Linked DNA regions of Homo sapiens: region 2 is linked to region 1. Evidence: fine-mapped expression QTL. A gene starts in region 1. The other region holds a variant in brackets. All regions are shown on one strand. Distances are from middle to middle. Region 1 holds the start of DARS1-AS1 (DARS1 antisense RNA 1). Region 2 holds the start of THSD7B (thrombospondin type 1 domain containing 7B).

What was found. PIP is the estimated chance that this variant, and not a neighbour inherited with it, causes the effect.
Region 2: its variant is fine-mapped to the expression of DARS1-AS1 in thyroid (GTEx, PIP 0.93).

Annotation. Positions count from the first base shown.
Region 1 is chr2:135,983,229-135,988,594 of GRCh38, reverse strand. DARS1-AS1 (DARS1 antisense RNA 1) reads right to left here and starts at 3,419. Exons shown (of 4, transcript NR_110199.1): 1 at 3,079-3,419. DARS1 (aspartyl-tRNA synthetase 1) reads left to right here and starts at 2,969. Exons shown (of 16, transcript NM_001349.4): 1 at 2,969-3,192; 2 at 5,141-5,198. The coding sequence starts at 3,127. RefSeq lists an enhancer at 3,123-3,222 and a silencer at 3,273-3,332.
Region 2 is chr2:136,763,273-136,768,647 of GRCh38, reverse strand. It overlaps THSD7B (thrombospondin type 1 domain containing 7B), which reads right to left and starts at 3,103. Exons shown (of 28, transcript NM_001316349.2): 1 at 2,961-3,103. RefSeq lists an enhancer at 2,620-3,121. The variant A/G (reference allele first, on the strand shown) is at 2,163.

The DNA of each region.
Region 1 (5,366 bases):
CAGTAAAGCTGTAACATGCTGCTTTTAGATTTAGATGGTTTATTACTTACATAGACAGTGAAAACAAGAATAAGCCCCCAGCCTGGACAACATGGTGAATCCCCATCTCTACAAAAAATACAAAAATTAGCTGAGCATGGTGGTGCACACCCGTAGTCTCAGCTACTCCAAAGGCTGAGGTGGGAGGACCCCTTGAGCCCGGGAGGTCGGGGCTGCAATGAGCCTTGATCGCACCACTGCATTCCAACCTGGGCAACGGAGTGGGACCCTGCCTCAAAAAAAAAAAAAAAAAAAGGCCAGGTGCGGTGGTTCACTACTGTAATCCCAGCACTTTGAGAGGCTAAGGCAGGCGGATCACCTGAGGTCAGGAGTTTGAGACCAGCCTGGCCAACATGGTGAAACCATGCCTACTAAAAATACAAAAATTAGCCAGGCATGGTGGCGGGCACCTGTAATCCCAGCTACTCGGGAGGCTGAGGCAGGAGAATCACTTGAACTTGGGAGGTGGAGGTTGCAGTGAGCCAAGATCATGACACTTCACACCAGCCTGGGAGACAAAGGGACACTCTGTCTCAAAAAAAAAAAAAATTAAATTAAAAAAAAGAGAGAGAGAAAGAAGAATAAGCCAAAGTTGCCAGCTCCCTGTGATTCTTGTCCCATTAAGGACATCACTGAAACAAAAGGCACCAAATGACTGCAACATGAGTAGTGGGACACTCTGTTGCTTAACAGCCACTTCTAGACTCCAGTTAAGCAGTAAGATATTATATACATTTTTGTATTCTGCATTTCCCTTGAGGGAAGGGGGCAAGAAGTCCCACACCTCATCAGAATCTAGGAGGTAGTAAGAAACCATCCCATAACAGCCTCTCAGGGAGACAGGGAAGTGAGTGGGAGATGGCCTTCCACCCTCTCATGTTCCAGCAGGATCACAAGATGTTTTTCCAAGATTCAGGTTAGCTGCAGTTCCCGCCCTTGCCTACATGGCTTATGTGGATCCTGCAAAGCAGCCAGAGCACCATAGCAGAGCTGTTCCCCTATTCTTTGGTCTGTGGAATAGGCTACCATACCGGATAAAGCTAAGAGGAAATCTCTAAAAGTCACTTTCCCAGCCCCCAACTAGGATAGGAAATCATAAACAATAACATGTCCCCAAGGGGAATAGTGGAGATCAGTGCAACCCTTAAAGACGTAATGGTTGGTAGTCTCCATCACATTCCTATTGTCACCGGTGTGGCTCCAGCAAAAACCAGACAAATTCAGGAACTTGACAGTAGACTACTGCAAGTTCAACCAAGTCACAGCCTCAGTTGCAGCTGTGGTATCTTTACTACAGCAGATTCTTAAGACCTCAGGCATATGACATGTGGCCACTGATCTGGCAAATGCTTCTTTTCTATCACTATCAGGAAAGGAGGCCAGAAACAAGAATATATATTTACAGTCTTATTCCAGGACTAAATAAGAATACTTTTATCAAGGCAACGGGGCCAAAGTAAGAAAGAAGTACATGGACAGGCCTCATGGACAGATGGAAAGGTAAGATCGCTACCCTAGCAAAGGGATAATAGATGGGATTTGTATTCAGATTTCTGATAACCAGTCCATACATTAGGACTATACCTGATTGAGGCAATCCAAGTTTTAAAAAAAATTCCAAGATGAAGCAACTTCACAGACCCCCTTCTGTATTCGAATCCCATGAGTATAATGGGATGCCTTTTTTAACGGAATGTGATACTGATCATGAATATTCAGTGTTGCTCCCCAAGGAATGAGTAAATTCTCCTGCCCCCATGAACTCAGGAATGACGATGTGACTTGTTCTCGCCAATAAACTAGGAGAATGTGAAATGTGTCACTTCCAGGCAGCCATTTTAAGAGCTAAATTCTCTTCCTGACTCTGTAATAATGGAAGCATGTATCAAGATGGCGCATCTATCAGCCTAGGTACCTGTGTAATATTAAGAACAGGAACTAGGACTTATCTTTTTATTGCCAGCACCTGATAGAATGCCTGGCACAAAGTAGATGTTTGTAAATAATCTTTGATCAATTAAATAGGGAATAAAATTTCATACCACCTGCAATTAGAAGGAAAGCTACAGGCAAGCAAGGACCATGGCTGTCTTCTCACTACTCCATGGGGGAGCCTCCAGAGAGAGCCTTTCACTTGCGCTGGGATCTATGTGCACCCCTTAACACTTTGTGCCAGACTAAGACACTACCAAGTCAGTTGAAACGACGGAGTGCAAACTCTGGCAGGGGAAACAGTATTAAACCAAATCTCCAAATTATTTTCAATTTCGATTCAAAACTCATGAATGATAGCTTTTTTAAAAAATCAGTTTTTTAAAAAAGCCTAACTTGGGGATATTCGCCCATTGGGCAACCAACACTATGCACTGTCCCTAACACTGCAACAGATCCAGGCAATCAATGCAATTGTATGCGTTTCTTGTTGTCGTTGCCACTGTATTTACACCTCACTTACACAGGGACTGGTAACCCATGCTGCCTTGGCAAGCCAACTGCACTCCTCTGTCCCAACAAGCAGGGCAATGGATTGCGAAGAGGCCTCCTCCGTCCCCAAGCAGCTACGTCGCCCAGGGGAAGAGAGAAGGCGGGAAAGTCCAAGAGAGGAGAAACCAAGGCCCGCGCTTAGGTGGGTGTTTTAGTGACGAGTCTGCGGTTACAGCCGAGCGGAGTTGAAAGGGCTGTTAGAAGAATGGAGCAGAAGTCGCAGTTGGGACGAAGCTGAAGAGAGCTGGCATTCGCCCAGGTCTACAGCCAGCCACCTGGTAACCCCTGCCCCCGCCCCCAGAGCCAATCCAGCGAAACTACCGCGAATTCCCGGGAATTCCCTCCAACTCCGGGAAAACTCCCGGAGGGGCGGGGCAAGAGTGGGAGGAGACCCTGCGCGCGGCCGCCAGCGCTCCGGGATCTCGAGATAGCCGCAGCTCTCGCGATCTTTCTGGAGCCGCACCTCCACGCGGAGTCCGAGCGCGTGTGCTGAGACCCCAGGGTCGGGAGGGCGGAGACTGGGAGGGAGGGAGAAGCCCCTTTGGCCTGCCTTACGGAAGCCTGCGAGGGAGGGTGGTGTCCACTGCCCAGTTCCGTGTCCCGATGCCCAGCGCCAGCGCCAGCCGCAAGAGTCAGGAGAAGCCGCGGGAGATCATGGACGCGGCGGAAGTGGGTTTCCTCCTTTCCTGGGCCTGGGAGGACAGACCCCTGGGCCGGGCTGCGCCGAGGGAGGGAGGAGGGGGAGTGGGGCCCTACAGGTCCTTGTCGGCACGTTCTCCGCAGGCTGCGGGCGTGGGGTCCGGGCGCCTAGAGCCCTTGCCCCAGCAGTGGGGCCAGACCCTCTCCGGACCGCGTTTCTTGCGGGGGTCACCTGGGAGTTTGGCCTACTAGAAGCGTGTCCCCGGGGTGGGGAGGACGGGAAGAACCAGCCGCCCCGGAAGTAGGAGCGCGGCGTCACACTTGAGTCTCTCTGGGTTAGGCACGTCCTGCACGTAATGCACAATCCCTGGGAAAATTTTAATAAGCACTAGTAATCGATATGTACTCAGCCCTCGTGTTCCTAATGCTTTAGCAAGTAATGACAGTACTTAGCAAAACCATCTGCCAATATGTTTAATGACCATTTCCCATGTGACAGCTTTAAAGAACACATGTCATTTTTATTTACTTTCTCCCTCTCAGTGACCCGGTAAGGTAGGTAATAGGAGTTACCGAGAATGCATTTGAGGTGAAGTGACCCCAAATCACGTGGATAATTCATAACACCCAGTGATCCTTCGGTGCTTTTCAGAAATCAAAGTTTGAAACCATCCTACAAGTTATGTGTGCTGTAGTACTGTTAAGCCTTAATTTCCGTCTGGCTCCCTAATTTTTCTATAAGGAGTTCTGAGTTTGTGGTAAGCAACATGAGAAGTAAGGTCATCTTAGAATACTAAATGAGGAAGAGTCACTGAAATATTAATAGTACTAATTATGAATGCAACTTTTTTGTCCTTCACACAATTTAATCTCCTTCTGTTGCCCTCAGGCTTCATTGTGTGACTGTATCTCTCTACTCTGGCCAGGGTTATCTTTTTCTTTAAATTGTTCAGTAAGCGCCTTAAACATGTCTGGTTTTATTTTGGTGTAAACACAAAATCCAGCACCCTCCTGCTCTAAAGGAGAGGATTCCAACAGGTAGCTGTAAAGTGACAGAAACTTAATTGTTTCATACAGATCTTAAGTTACCTTGTAAAAACTAGGGCAATTATTTTTGTGTACTCTTAATCTGCTTAATTACATAAACTATCAGTGTACCCTTACAGATAGTATAGGTCTAGATACAAGGTAGACATTGTGGCAGAGTTATGCCATTTTATAGCTAGAAGAATCTTAGATCATTTTAGAGGTAAAGTAAGATTGAAATAAAGGCCACTTATCTATTTAATAAGTATATTTTGTTAACAGATTGGACCCTAGGTCTTCTGTTTCCTGTTCCTAACTCTAATCTGTAACAAGAAATTTGATATTATTATATTGTCAGTGTCAAACTCCTGTAACCTGGTATCCTGAATCTGGTTTTTAGAAACAGGAAGCTGGTGAATTTTTTGATGATGTTTTACAAAAGGAAAGTTGTAGTTAGCTTATACCCAGCATCTCCAGTTTCTAAAAACTGTGGACATCTGGTGCTCAGAAAGCTTACCCAAAACGTTGGTTCTCTTTGAACATTTCTTCCTGTAATAGGAAGTTAATAAAACTGTGGTACTTCATCCTACTCCCTTCACAGAGGAAATTTATGTCCCTGCTTTGAAGTAGTTTCATCTTTTTGAAGAAGGTAGTTAAGATGTGTTGTACATATGTGTAAATTTTATCTGAGAATGTTATTAAGTATGGTAAATCCATCTAGGAGTGGTGATCTTCAAAACAAACTAACCAGAAACAGTACTTTTCTGTTTTCTGTAGAGTACATATGTAAATGAATGAGAGATTTCCACATTATGAAACTACTGACTTTCTGAATTAATAAAATGATCCTGAAAGTTAAATTCATTTTTATATTCTATTATTAGTATTTATGTGTTTACTGTGCTCTTAGTGTTTACATAAAAAGTCACGATGCAAAAAACTTTTTTTGTAGGATTATGCTAAAGAGAGATATGGAATATCTTCAATGATACAATCACAAGAAAAACCAGGTTAGTAGCTATGTGACAGTAAATAAAGCTTTTTTGCTTTCTAATTCCAGGAAAGCTCTAAATGAAATTTTAAGTAAGGTTGGCATAAATCTGAAGGTATAATTCTGAAAAGCTTAAATGACATTAATAATCCAAGTAGATGTCATAACCCTGTGTAAACATTGTCAG
Region 2 (5,375 bases), 780 kb before region 1:
TTAATAGTGCTATTCTTTTTTTCCCATCAACTAATATAGTTGTCACTACTTAGAATTCTTTAATCTGTTTGTCTTAATCATGTATTTAATATATTGTATCATTTGTCATTTTCACAGTTAACTAAATAAGACCAGTCAAATATTCTTCATCATTCTATTCAAACTTTTGACATAATGTTATTACTTTAATGCCTAATCTTTGTAAAGTGTGCAGAACAGCAGAATTGAAGTTTTGGCAAGACTTTTTTTCTTTAAAGGAATCATACAACTCCAGTTTCAATTTGTGAAGTATAATTAAAGTGAGTTGACATGCTTTAGAATTGTTCTTGTTTGGACATTCTCCCTCCTTTAACTTAGAGCCTATCTTTTTATTCTGCTTTTTCGGTCTATCATTTAAGGACAACATTCTTTTTGCTGATATTAACAAAAGAGTTATTCCTTCAGAAATAGGATCTGTAGCAAGCAGACAAGGTCCTTCATAGCCCTTCTGATGAAGTACAATTTAGTACCATTTTCCTTTCATTCCTTCCCTACTTTCTCTCAAAAGGCACACTCAGCAGAGAACAGAAAGGTACCTCTCGTTACCAATTTGTTAATGTCAGTCTTCAAACAGTAGAGTCTGTATTTACATTGTTTATATGATCGGTAATTATTTTCTACCTGTCTAACAGTGTTCCTCTTTCTTAGCCTTTCAACTCTCTAACAATCAACAACTTTGATGGAAAACAATGGGCCAGAAGATTAAGAAATATTGTAAGATCATTTCTCAAGTATTGATTTAAATATTAAGGTTGACATAAAGTGAGCTCATCGTATTATGAACCCTCAAAACAGACTATCAAAGTCCACCAACAGTAGACAGCCCTTTCCTGGACCACGTATCTCCAAGCCCTTATCACAGATTAATCTAGAATATCCAAAACCCTGAATGGTTTGTAGGTGTTCAGGGCTGCTGGATCTGTCTGTGCTGATTTATACGAGACTATCCGATGTTTTTAAAGTCAACAATGACACCTACAATTTTTTCAGAAGTATCTGTGTATATTGTTACAGTGTCAGAAGAATTTTCTTCATAATTTTTTTCACTTAAATTTGCATGAAAAAGAGTTTCTAACCCTCAACTCTCAGCAGGTAGATGAAGAAAACACACACACACAAATACACACAACACACACACACACACACACACACTTCCCAGGGATAGAAAATAAAACAATTCCAGGGAATCTACCAGATTAGATCAACTACCCTCAGAAAACAGAGAACTGGCCACATTACTTTTCAAAAGAAGACTCCTATTATTAATGGCACTAAGGTTTAAAAACAGCAGTCTGTCAAAGTGAAGCCTCAAGACAGAAACTTTATAAACAGCTTTTAACCCACAAAGACACGAGCTTTCACTCACCACTGAGTAAGACTTCTTGATTTGGTTAGTAACACCCTAAGTGGCTTTCAGGAAGCCTTCACCAACTGCTGAGTAGACAGTCAAGAGCACAAAAAGGCTTCCCTGGAGATTACCTCCTCCTAGTTACTCGAGAAACTCAGATTGCCCTGACACTGCCAGACAAATAACTGTATCCCTTTGACATCCAAAGATTACCTGTCAAAAGGAAACTCCAAACACACACGTTCACACGCACGCGCATGTATACACACACACACAAACACACACACACCCCACCACAGTCTGGTTGGCATGAGCCCTACCTGCATGGGTTACCATTTCCATGATAACAGAGCACTCACAGGTGTACCGCTGAGAAACACCAGGCAGACCGTCATTTAAAGAGCTCCAAGGAGTCTGAGGGTGGGAAACTGCCGGCTTTCAGCAGACCACCCTGGCAATGAACAGAGCGCCAAGGAACCCTGGTATCTTCCGTAGAATATGCCACGGTCCCATAATCTTAGTGGAACTTCACCTTGACTGTACAGTATTGAATCGCAATACCTCTTATGGGAAGCTCTGAGCTCAGACATTCCAAAAGAAAAAAGTACCACCTTCGCCAACGAAAGTTTTTTTCTTGTCTTTAAAAAGGGATAGAGTGAGAGAGCTTAACGCCCCCTCCTCAACATTCCCTCGTCCCCTGCAAAGTTTTCCAACTTCAAAATACGCGGTCACCAAAGAGCGGGGTTCATTTGCTTATTCAAATAACTTTAATACT[A/G]TGGGACATGTAAGACAGCAAAGGGGACAGGTGCAGATGGGCGATGCAGTAGAAAATATGCCTGTCCCCCCCTCCCTGCCCCTCACTCTCAAGCCCCGTTCCCAGTTTCCTCTCCACAAACAGCAGGATATCACGTCCGAGCCCAGCTTGCCCCTAGCCACTCGCAGGGACAGGGGAAATGTAAACTGTTGCTACAGCCTCCTGACACTCCACCGATAAATCAGAGGAAGCTGCAAAACTTCTTGGCTTGCTCAGCTATCCTCCACTGGCACTGAACGCCTATGCACAGATTTCGCAGTCAGCGCTACGGGAAAGGAAACCCTCAGTCAACCTGTTTGCAAAGCCTGCAGAACAACTCCCGGCCTTTCGATTTTGGGCGCCGAGGCTCTCCGCGCAGGACGGGAAACCCCCGGTTTCCTTCATCAGTATCCCTCAAACCAAGCTGGAGGTGAAGGGAACAGAGCTCCTGCTGCCCGGGTCCCAAGGTTCGGTCCCGTTGCATGAGGTCGGTGCTCAGGTCGCCGCGTGGGGCGTCCCCGCCCGCCTAGAGGGTCTCCGCACACTGCGCCCCGGGCAGCCCACGCTTCCCGCAGCCCCAAGCCAGAGGCGTCCGAGAAGATCCGCTTCCAAGTTCCCGCGTCTGGCTGGGAGAAGGGGCGACGATGGCTGTCCGGCGAGGAAAGAGCAAAGTCTGCGCCGGCAGCGCGCCCCCTTCCCCGGCGCTGCCACCCCGCGCCCCAGTCGGCCGGCCAGGGGGCCCGGCATCCCCGACTCGGGGCTCCGCGTGCTTGCACTCACCCGTCTCGCCAGAGCCGCCGCCGTAACCTCTGGGAGCCGCTGAGCCCCGAGCTTCCCGAGCGCAAGAAAGATGGTGGTGTGTGTCGGAAGACCACCCATTCCAGCGTCTGGCAACCCGGCGGCGACTCTGGCTCCTCAGCACTGAAGGAGGAGGAGGAGGAAGAGAAGGAGGAGGAGGAAGAGAAGGAGGAGGAGGAGGAGGAGGAAGGAACGGCGCAGTCAGACGCCATCTGCTGTACACCTCTGCGCAGCCATTGGCTGCCTGGTGCGTCCGAGAGCCGCGGGGCGCGGGGCCGCGGGGAGCCACCTTGCGCCTCGCCTACCCCGGCAGCTGTTCCCCACCGCCCCCTCTTTCTCCCCCCTCTCCTCCGCCTCCTACCGCCTCTGCCGCGCACCCGCACGACCCTCGGCTCAGCCTGCTCCCCAAGGCGAGCGACCGCGGGCGCGCTGGCCTGGACCTCAGTTCCTCTGCTCCCCGCAACTGTTTGCCGCAACTTTGAAGCTTCGGGGTGCCGGTGCGGGCTGGGTAAGGGGACTCCCCAGCTGAGCTCAGCCCGGAGTACCCAAGCCACTGAGCCCAGGAGAGGGTCGAGCGCTTTGCGCCTCGGAGGTCCATGAAGTGATGGGGGAAGAGAGCAAGAAAGAGTGGGGGTGCCCTAGGCCCCTGTTGATAACGCGCCCCAACACGCACACATGCGCGACACTCCGACACACAGTAAAACACACACACCGAGCCATCCCGCAAGGTCCGGATGGTCTGGCGTTCCTCTGCAGTCCCCGGGCACGAGAGGGCTTCGGTGTTACTAGGAGAAAAGACAAAGAAAATCCTATCTGGGGAGTACCCCTAGCAGCATACGTGGGGGAGAGAGAAAGGGAAACATTGTGGTGACTCCGGGAAACGCCGGGAGCTGGGTGCATACCTGCCTGGACATCCCCCCTGTTGCGGGGCTCCCAGCGACTGTCAGCCCACGCCCACCAGAGCCTGGGAAAACCCCTAGCTCTGGGGCCTCTGTTTAAAGGATTTGCAGTCCCGGGGCGCGGGGACCGGAGTTGCGGGAAGGAGCGCCTTAGGCTCCTGGGTAGCTCATGCCGGAAGCAGCAAAGGAGGTGGAGAGTCCGAGTCAGCCCAGGTGAGGCAGGAGTGCAGACAGCGGAGAGCACGTGGGCAGTCGAGGAGCAGAGTCACAGCTCAGAAAGTCGTTTGCTTACTCTCTGACACTTGTTCCAAACCCTTCTGGTTTTTGACACCTTTGATCTAGGGAACTTCTTAAGCTTGTTCAGAGAGATGAAGTTGCTTCAAAAGGGAGAAGGGGCGGGGGGAAGCATGAGGACTACCTATTGCCAATTACAGGATATTTTGCCTGTCAAATCTCTTTAAATGTGTGAGCCCAGCGACAGCAGGGATTGTATCTTTTCTATTTTATCCAATGCCTGGCACACCATGGGTGCTTAAAATGAAGCAAAATAATAATGATAAAATTAAAGCTTGATGTCATAGAGCAAATTAGATTCAAGAGATAAATAGAGAAGCTAGGATCTGTCACAGATAAAAAGAAATCAAAAGAATGTAAGTGCCATTGTAAAGAAAGATGTGAATATATTGGTAAGGGGCTTCAACTCAGCTTGCTGTGGGATGATGGGTTCTGAAAGCAGGGAAGCCTTACTTAATATTTTAAACAGCAATCGCTATTCTCCCACTACAGTCACATTCTGGGTTATGCTTTTTTTTTTTCCTGACATCACTGTCTTAAAAATAAATCAGCTGCCAACCAGATCCCAGAATATTTTCTTAAATCCAAGACCATGATTTATTACTCTCAAGAGATAAAAGGCCAATCCTGTGACCCAGGGGAGAGAGAAACTGGTCCATTATGTTTTATTGTAATCTCAATATATACAGATCAATAGCCAATGAGTCTCATTTAAGTAACTTCAGGAACAACAGCCAAAGAAAAACATTTCTGTTTTCTTGAACTATTATACCCAGGCTTCCCAGGTTTCAGTTTTCCCAGAATCAATGCTGCATTTTCAGGCCACACCCCCTGCACACACACCCCCATATGGGAGAAAGACTTGTGTTTGCAATCTGTCTGGAAAAAAAGATATCAAGGATGACTTCTGAGTATGGCATGTATGGACATCTTAGTAGTTATTTGTCCCCCTCCCTCACCAGAGACAATGATACGTATATTTTCCTTTAGGCTGGCAATTTGCTTTCAACGTGCATTCTGATTTAATATGCCAGCCCATTCTCATTAACCCTTTGCTCTACGTCAGCAATCACTTACGATACCCAAGAATACTTTGATTCTTAAGACACAACTTTTCTCCTCTGAGGCATTGTTTGTGTTTGGTCTCCTGGTTTTTGAATCTAGGATATGAGATTATAGTCATATGGTAATTCTGTTGGGCTTC